Homo sapiens: one gene and its partner. The protein of the gene in region 1 interacts with the protein of each later gene in a pairwise test. Each region holds a gene or a part of one and is shown on either strand. Other genes may lie near its edges.

What was found. The genes of interacting proteins can lie anywhere in the genome.
Region 2: the proteins of SLC35A1 (region 1) and SYT2 interact in binary tests that used the Homo sapiens proteins (3 or more experiments, as listed by UniProt).

Annotation. Positions count from the first base shown.
Region 1 is NC_000006.12:87,471,412-87,475,160, forward strand, and holds the start of SLC35A1 (CMP-sialic acid transporter), read left to right. Parts: upstream 1-1,562; 5' UTR 1,563-1,592; coding exon 1,593-1,608; intron 1,609-3,749. UniProt on the Homo sapiens protein: Transports CMP-sialic acid from the cytosol into the Golgi apparatus, functioning as an antiporter that exchanges CMP-sialic acid for CMP. Binds both CMP-sialic acid and free CMP, but has higher affinity for free CMP.
Region 2 is NC_000001.11:202,591,706-202,595,454, reverse strand, and holds part of SYT2 (synaptotagmin-2), read left to right. Parts: 3' UTR 1-3,749. UniProt on the Homo sapiens protein: Exhibits calcium-dependent phospholipid and inositol polyphosphate binding properties. May have a regulatory role in the membrane interactions during trafficking of synaptic vesicles at the active zone of the synapse.

The DNA of each region.
Region 1 (3,749 bases):
GATAAACCATACAAAGCAGTAGCTGTAAAACGAAGGACTATATGATATAATATTTTTAATTTTTAAAATTAATTTCACGTACATATATGAATATTGTTTAAATGTATGCATAAGTACATACACAGTAGAGAACTGAATAATTCTACTAGTGGAAACTGTATCAATTACAATAAGGGAAGATTAGCACCAGTGAGCACACTTACTACCAGGTAGAGGAAAAGTCCAACACTATTGCAAAATGAGATTAATCAAATGTCTGCCTCTACAAAGTCAACTCTGGTCTCCTGGGAGCCCCTCCCAATATTAATATGATGCTAATAAGGCATGCAAAATGTTCCAACAATGTTAACAGACCAGATATATCTATATGTATATTTAACAAGACAATGGTATACAACCAACCCTCTAAAAGGACAATTTTGGGGAAAGAACATGCTGCAGAAGGTGTGGGCTGCTGGGCAGCTCAGAATCTTGCATCCCTATTCCTGTAAGTGCTGAGGTATTTTCATATTATTTTAAACCAATCCACATATCTTGAACATCATTTATTTCACCAATGAATTATTTCTAATATCAATTATGATAGCTAATTAACATCCCCTAGTGAAAGTGGAGATTATAGTGGTTAAAATGCCTGTTGATATATCTAATTTTTTTTGTTTTTTGAGACGAAGTCTCGCTGTGTCGCCCAGGCTGGAGTGCAGGGGCGCAATCTCGGCTCACTGCAATCTCCCGGGTTCAAGTGATTCTCCCGCTTCGGCCTCCTGAGTAGCTGGGATTACCGGTGCGCGCCACCACGCCCGGCTAATTTTTTGTATTTTTAGTAAAGACGGGGTTTCGCCATATTGGCCAGGCTGGTCTCGAACTCCTGACCTTAGGTGATCCATCTGCCTCGACTTCCCAAAGTGCTGGGATTACAGGCGTGAGCCACCACGCCCGGCCGATACATCTGATTTTTTAAAGGCCGTTTTGTTGTGCGAAGATCATTAGTTAGAATGCCTGGCTGGGTAAATACAACCGATGACTGCTGACGATATGGAACAGGCACAAGACTTCTGAACGATATGTAGAATAAATTATAACTTATCTAGAACACAAGGTAACAGTGGAAGATAATGAGCCAGGTGGAAGTTACAAATGTTGCCGCAAGTAGTTTCTGTTACTTTACGAGTTCTGGGAGCTTCTCTAACAGCTTTGACAGGAGTGAATCCCCAAGGCTAAACCCAAATCCTTATTTGCCGCCTACTCACGCCTTTGTGAGGACTACGATTCCCAGACGGCAACGCTCCCTTCACTCAACTTCCTTAGCTGGCGGGGAGACGCAGTTTACAGAACTACCTCCCCAACCGAATTTCACACACCTGTCACCTAGGACGCGGCCGGGAAGGCCTCCCTTCGATCCGCGTTCTCCCCATTTTGGGGTGTAGCTTGGATTCCTGAGCCCAGTTTTAGTGCGTGGCCGACCGGGAGGCCGGCGAGGCGCTCTAGGCCGAGCGGCTTCGTCTCTATGACCACAAGGGGCGGTCCCCGGTGTCCTGCGCGGGGGCGCGGAGGGGGCGGGCGTCAGTTCCGCGGGGGGCTGTCGGGGAACCATGGCTGCCCCGAGAGGTGAGAACTGGGTCTGCTGGGAGTGGGGAGTCCGCGGGGGGCGGCGGCGGGCGAGCATCTGCGCTGGTCAGCCCCTGTCGGGCAGCGGAGCACCCTGGTTGCCCAGTGCCTCTGGGGCCTGGCTGAGGCGTCAGGAGTTTGCGTGGAGCCGCTCCCGGCAGTCAGGGCAGCCTGCCTTCCGCTGCGGCTGCAGTCTCCGCGGCTGACTCCGCGCTGGGCAGGTCGGAGTCAGAGACCGCACTGACCTCCACTAGCTGGGAGTGGGTGGGAACCGAATTCTGACAGGCCGGGGCTGCGGCGGACCCGGAGAGAGGCCAGGGCGTGGGTCCGGGGCTGGACCGCATTACCCAGCGAGGCAGGACAGTTCTTCACCCTGGCCCCGCGGCTCCGGTCTCCTCTGCGCCTCCTACCCTGTGGATGCTCAGAGGCTTAAAGGCAGGCTCCGGGCGCAGATCCCATGCGGCGGCTGGGCCATGCAACAACCACTAAAGACATCACTGGGGCGTCAAAACAGCACTGAAATCGTAACGAAAGGAAGATAACAGTCGTTAACAGTTCCCACCTGTATGCTGTGTGTAATTATAGAGAATGCTGTATGCTGCTATTTGGGGTGGAAGCTGAGATCCACCTCCCTCCTCCTGAGGGATGGCACATTCGGGTGAAGGCGTATTTGTTGACTAATTGACATTTAAGGAGGGCGAGTCTAATTGACTCCGCACCACTTTTTGCTGAGCAGTGTGTGTAAGTTGGGACCAGAGGTGGATTCTTTGACTGTGGTGCATTAACCAGGAGAAGTTGGGCAACACCCGGATTCTTGCTCCACCCTTCCTCCATAGAGCACTTGGCTTCACCCTTGAATAAATATTGAACGAATACATAAGGAATATCTTCTTGCGTGGGTTTCAAGTTATTTTCCCTGTTGCGGGGTCCATGTTTCTCATCAGGCCCTGCCCAGGGGCATTGTCTTTAGTTGCATATGCTTCTCTTATGTCTTCTTTCTGTTTCATTTCAAATAAGTCCAATCTTAAAAGCCTTTTTTTGTAGCAACACAGGAAATAAAAGAAAAAGAAATAGAATTGTTTTGATAACTAAAATGGAATGGGGATAGCAAAATTGATCCGAACGAAAACTTATAAATTACAGAAGTCAAATCATTACTTGAAATAGCTGCAACAATGTAAAGGTTTAGGCTTATTGCCAATACATATTTGTTGAGCCTTGATTGTAATCCTAACAAAACTACAGTTTCCATAGTTTCCGAATATCCACAAAGGATTTATCTGGGACTTACAGAATTTCTAAGTTCTTAAGTATTACAAATAATGTCCCCATAAACTATAGTAAAACATAACCGAAAAAAAACATTTTAAACTGTAAGTTTCTTTTGGGGGACATTTCCACACAAACACTATATGGGAGCTAATAGAATTTCGTGAGAAGCAGGGAACAATGCAGGGTTAAGATGTGGCTGCCAGTTGAGTTGTGGGCTAGCTTTATAGTTACTGGCATTGGGTGTGATTTGAATTATTTGCCCAATTTGAAGTGATTACATATGGACTTTTGCTGTTACCCTGAAATAATTGAAATTGCTAATAACTGAAGTTTTATACTGGAGAATTTGTGAATGGAGTGAACAAGAAATAGTTTGGTCTGATGTTAAACTGCCAGAGAAAATCGTACTTAAAAACATTTAGTATTTAAAAGTTGAAATACGTTTAAAAACTGGTATTCCATGTCAAAGCCCAATCTGTTTTGCACATACCTAAACTTATTTGATTACCCTTCCACTTAGATCAGTAGTTATTTTCAAGAATATAATATATATTCCCATATACTCACTATGCAAAAAGGTATTTTTTCAAGTTAATGACAATATTATAAGTCAGAATATGTTTGTAGGCTATCAATATTTGGTTTAGTGTTTAAATATTCACTTTGTTGTTTTTGGAATCAGGAACCTGTACAGTAGCTAAAATAAAGTACTTTTTAGTTTATCAGCCCTAACTTCTCTTATTTATGAAAGTGTTGATAATCTAGGACATGAGATGGCAAACTTTTCCTGTGAAGGGCTGGATAGTCTCTTGTCATAACTACTCAGATCTGCTGTTGTAGGGAAAAAAAAGTAGCCTGGATAATTTAGA
Region 2 (3,749 bases), on another chromosome or scaffold:
ATGCTGGAGAGCTGATAGGTAGCTGGAGTGGCCCAGGGAGACCTATGGGAAGGACCCGTCCTACCATTAGGGGGCTTCTCTCTATGAATGCTAAGAAACAAAGGGCATCCATTCCAAATGAGTAGCAGAGGTGACCTTCTAGGGTTTCTACCCATGCTCAGTTGTATCCCATTCCCTGTTCACCTTTTGTCCCCAGCACTGATATAAAAGCCATATATATGTTAGTCAGGTTTGCACTGAGTCTTCTTCCAATCCTTCAGCCTGGACAACAGAGTGAGGTCCCCTTGTGGCCAGAGGCCAGCCCTCCTTGCCTGCCTTCCTTTGACCTCTCTTTTCCATCCATGAAGCCCTCAGGCCCTTGCCATTTTTTCACCACAGAAAACTCATGGCTTCTCCAGAAGCCTGAGTATCTCTCTTTCCCAGCACAAATGGCAGCATCTCTATCCTGCCCCATCTGGGCCACTTCAGCTTCCTGTAGACACCCAAGACAGATGGACAGTGTTGGAGGGAATCAGGCTTTGAGGATCCAGTGTGAAGAAGTTGCAGAGTGTCTTTTTATTTTATTTTAAAAAGGGGGAAGGGGCTTTTGGTTTTGCTTTGTTTTTTGGATGAAGGAGTGAGGGAAATGAGGGAATACCCCCACCAGAAACAGACTGGAAAGCCTGCCTGTCTCTTGGAGATCCTTCTTTGTCTTGTTAGTGGTACATGGGAAGTTATGTTTTTACTGGTGTGTGTGTGTGTGTGTGTGTGTGTACTTAATGATGGGAAGGTAAGACTCTGATCAGGATTATGAACTGCGGTCCTTGGGACCAAAGGTGTGGTCATGGTAGAGAGTTGTAGGACAATAGGGTGTTTTCAGAATCTGGGTGGCCACAGAGTGGGATTTCCTGGTATGGACATCAGAAGTCACTGGACTCTTCTCCCAACCCCAGAGTTATGGGATTTTGGTGCTTTCTCAGGGTCTCTCCCCAGACTCACTCTTCTCACCCATATCCCACAGACTCACTCATGGAGACCCCCTTGTCAATATCCCCTCTACCTTTACTCCTTTGCCCTTTCCCAATTCATCTTCTACCACCTGGATTCTTTTCCATTCATGAACTTCATTCAGCCCTTCCAAAGCCCAAGATTTGCATTCCCTTGACAGGGAGGAAAGGCAATGGTAGGAACCTCTGGTGGTCTGGGTGTCTATGTGCCTGGTGACCAGGGCTGGATTTTTATTACTCTGAGCCCACTGCTAGTGAGGAGCCTTGAGGGGTGGGGACAGGTTGCTGAGTGATTTTGAACGTTGACACCAGTGTGGAGCCAGTGTGGGTGTGGGGAGCAGTGCCTTCCTCAGGTCCCAGCTGGTCCTGATATGCCACGTAGTGGATGGCATCTGTCTTGGTCCATGGGCTTGGTGGGAACATGCTTCTGCTTGTGTGTTTTCCATACCTGAGGGCTGACGTAGCTTAAACCACAGGGCATCATGCCAAACACTCACTGCTGGGCAGGTTTATTTCTGGGGATGTCAGGGTACTGGGGTGTAGGCACTAAGCAGGATAGAGTTAGGGTGTCTGGCTAGTAAGGGGTTCTGGACGCCTCTGGGGCTGTGAGTTTTCATCTCAAAGTCTGTTCCAGAGAAAGGAAAGTAGTATAGAGGTGATTTTTAGAGAAGCTGAGACCATGAAAACAAGCCTAATCCCATCCAGAAACTGGGGTAAAGTCTGAAAGTTCGTTTTCTTCTTCCTCCCTGAATAATTGTTCCAGAAGGGATGCTAACTCTGCCAGAGCTACAGGCAGATTTTTGGGCTTTGGAAGTGGAAGCTGAGGCCTGGGGAAGGCTGGGTAAGGAATGCTGGGGCAATCTCAGACAGTAGGCAGGTGCTTGGCATGAATGAGAAGTGACTTTCCTGGAGTCCCTCAGTAGAGGATGAGATAGCAGGGATTAGGCCACAGTCTCAGATCCTGATCTTTTTTCTTCCTAGGAAAGCATACATAACTTGTGTCTGCAGAATCAGTGTGGGATGATTTTGCTGGCCCAAGGCTTCAGCGAGAGGGAGAAGAGAGGTCACTACAGCCCTCCTGTGGGTAAAAGCAGCTCTCTTATAAACCTGCCTCCATGCAGTGGGGTGGGGGTAAGGGTGGGTGACAGCAAAGAGGTTGAGGAACCTCCCTGGGTTTGGGGAGTGAGAGCTTCCATGTTCCCTTAATGTCCTAGGTTAATTCATAAGGCATCTGAGTCCTGGGTCTCACCCAGCCTCACAGAGAGAAAAACTGTCCCTGAGGGTGTCCCCTCCCACTCAAAGGTAGAAAGAGATTGAGCCAGGAACTGCCCTCATATCCTCTGCTCTGCCCCTTCCCTTCCCTTTCCTCTGCCCCTCCCACCTAAAGCTGTTTGGGGCCCTTTCTCAGAGCCCTGGGTGGTGGCAGGCAGGGAGGAGTCCCAAGATCCTGGTGGCCCTGAGCCCCATGCTATGGTTGCCAGATTTGGCAAATAAAAATACAGGATGTCCAGTTACATTTGAATTTCAGTTCAACAACAAACAATTATTAAGTGTAAATATGTCCTAGGCAAATAGTTGGGACATATACTAAAAAATAATTTGTTGTTTATCTGAAATTCAAATGTAACTGGTCATCCTGCATTGTGTCTGGGAACCCTACCCTATGACTTTTCCCCCTCTCCCTTTGGTCCCAAGGGGCCAGGAACCCCAAGGATTTGACTTAACCAGTTTTTTGAACTGCAATATTGAGAAGGGGACACTGTGACTTGAAGACACATGAATTACTTTATTTTTTAAGCAACAACAAAATAAGAACCTTCTGAAGCCATTTGAGCCTCATCTGCCCCCATCCGTGTATATTTAATTATATATAAAAGAAGATAATTACCTAGAAACATATGAACAGAATCTTGTTTAATCAAGATGCATGTCTATAACTTTCTGTAAATAGCCGCATGGCAATGCTGAGAGTCCCCTTGATCCCCAACCTCAAACCCATTTTACAGAACTGGTTGAGGCTGCTCCTTTGATTTTATGTCGTGTAAAGTCTTTGTTCCCCAGCCCCACCCCTGCCTCCTCCCATCGGGAAACCCCCCATGGGAGTCATCAGTGGGCGGGAGTCGGTGCCTGCTCCAGTCCAGCCCTGCCTTGGGAGATGCTGGAGGACCCTGTCGCCCTGAAGGCCTGTTTGCTGCACATCTGCCTGCAGAGCCAAACCTCAGGGCCCGGTGCAGTGTCCAGCCTGGTATCTGGCATCCCAGTAGCTTCCATGTTCTGTGTATGTGTGTGGTGTGCCCCTTCCTCCCACTGTTTGAATTCACTGAAAAGCCATAAAGGGGGCCTCCTGCTGGAGATTTGGCCTCCCTTGGCTCCTCCCAGGAGCCCCCATGTCTCTCCAACTGGCTCCCCACAGACCACTTCTGAAGGGCTCACCTGTTGTCACTCCCTCCTGCTCCCTCAGTCCCGTGTCATGAGAATGGACGGTGTCCAGGGCTTCCGGTGGGGTCTCAGGAGATGCCCATGCTGGCCCTGCCCGAGCTGGCTTTCTCGGCCTGGGTTCACAGTTCAGCTCCATCTCTACGCTGGGCGAGGAGCAGACAGCAGTGGGACTCCATGGTTCTGGATACCTTTCCTGGGGTCCCTGTGGAGGCAACCAGGATTTTCAGGAGCAGCCAGTCAGCAGCTCAGCCAGGGATGACAGAACCATCCCTGCTTACTCACCTCTGTAGTGTGAGGGTCTGTGGGTGGTGATGGAGGAGGGAC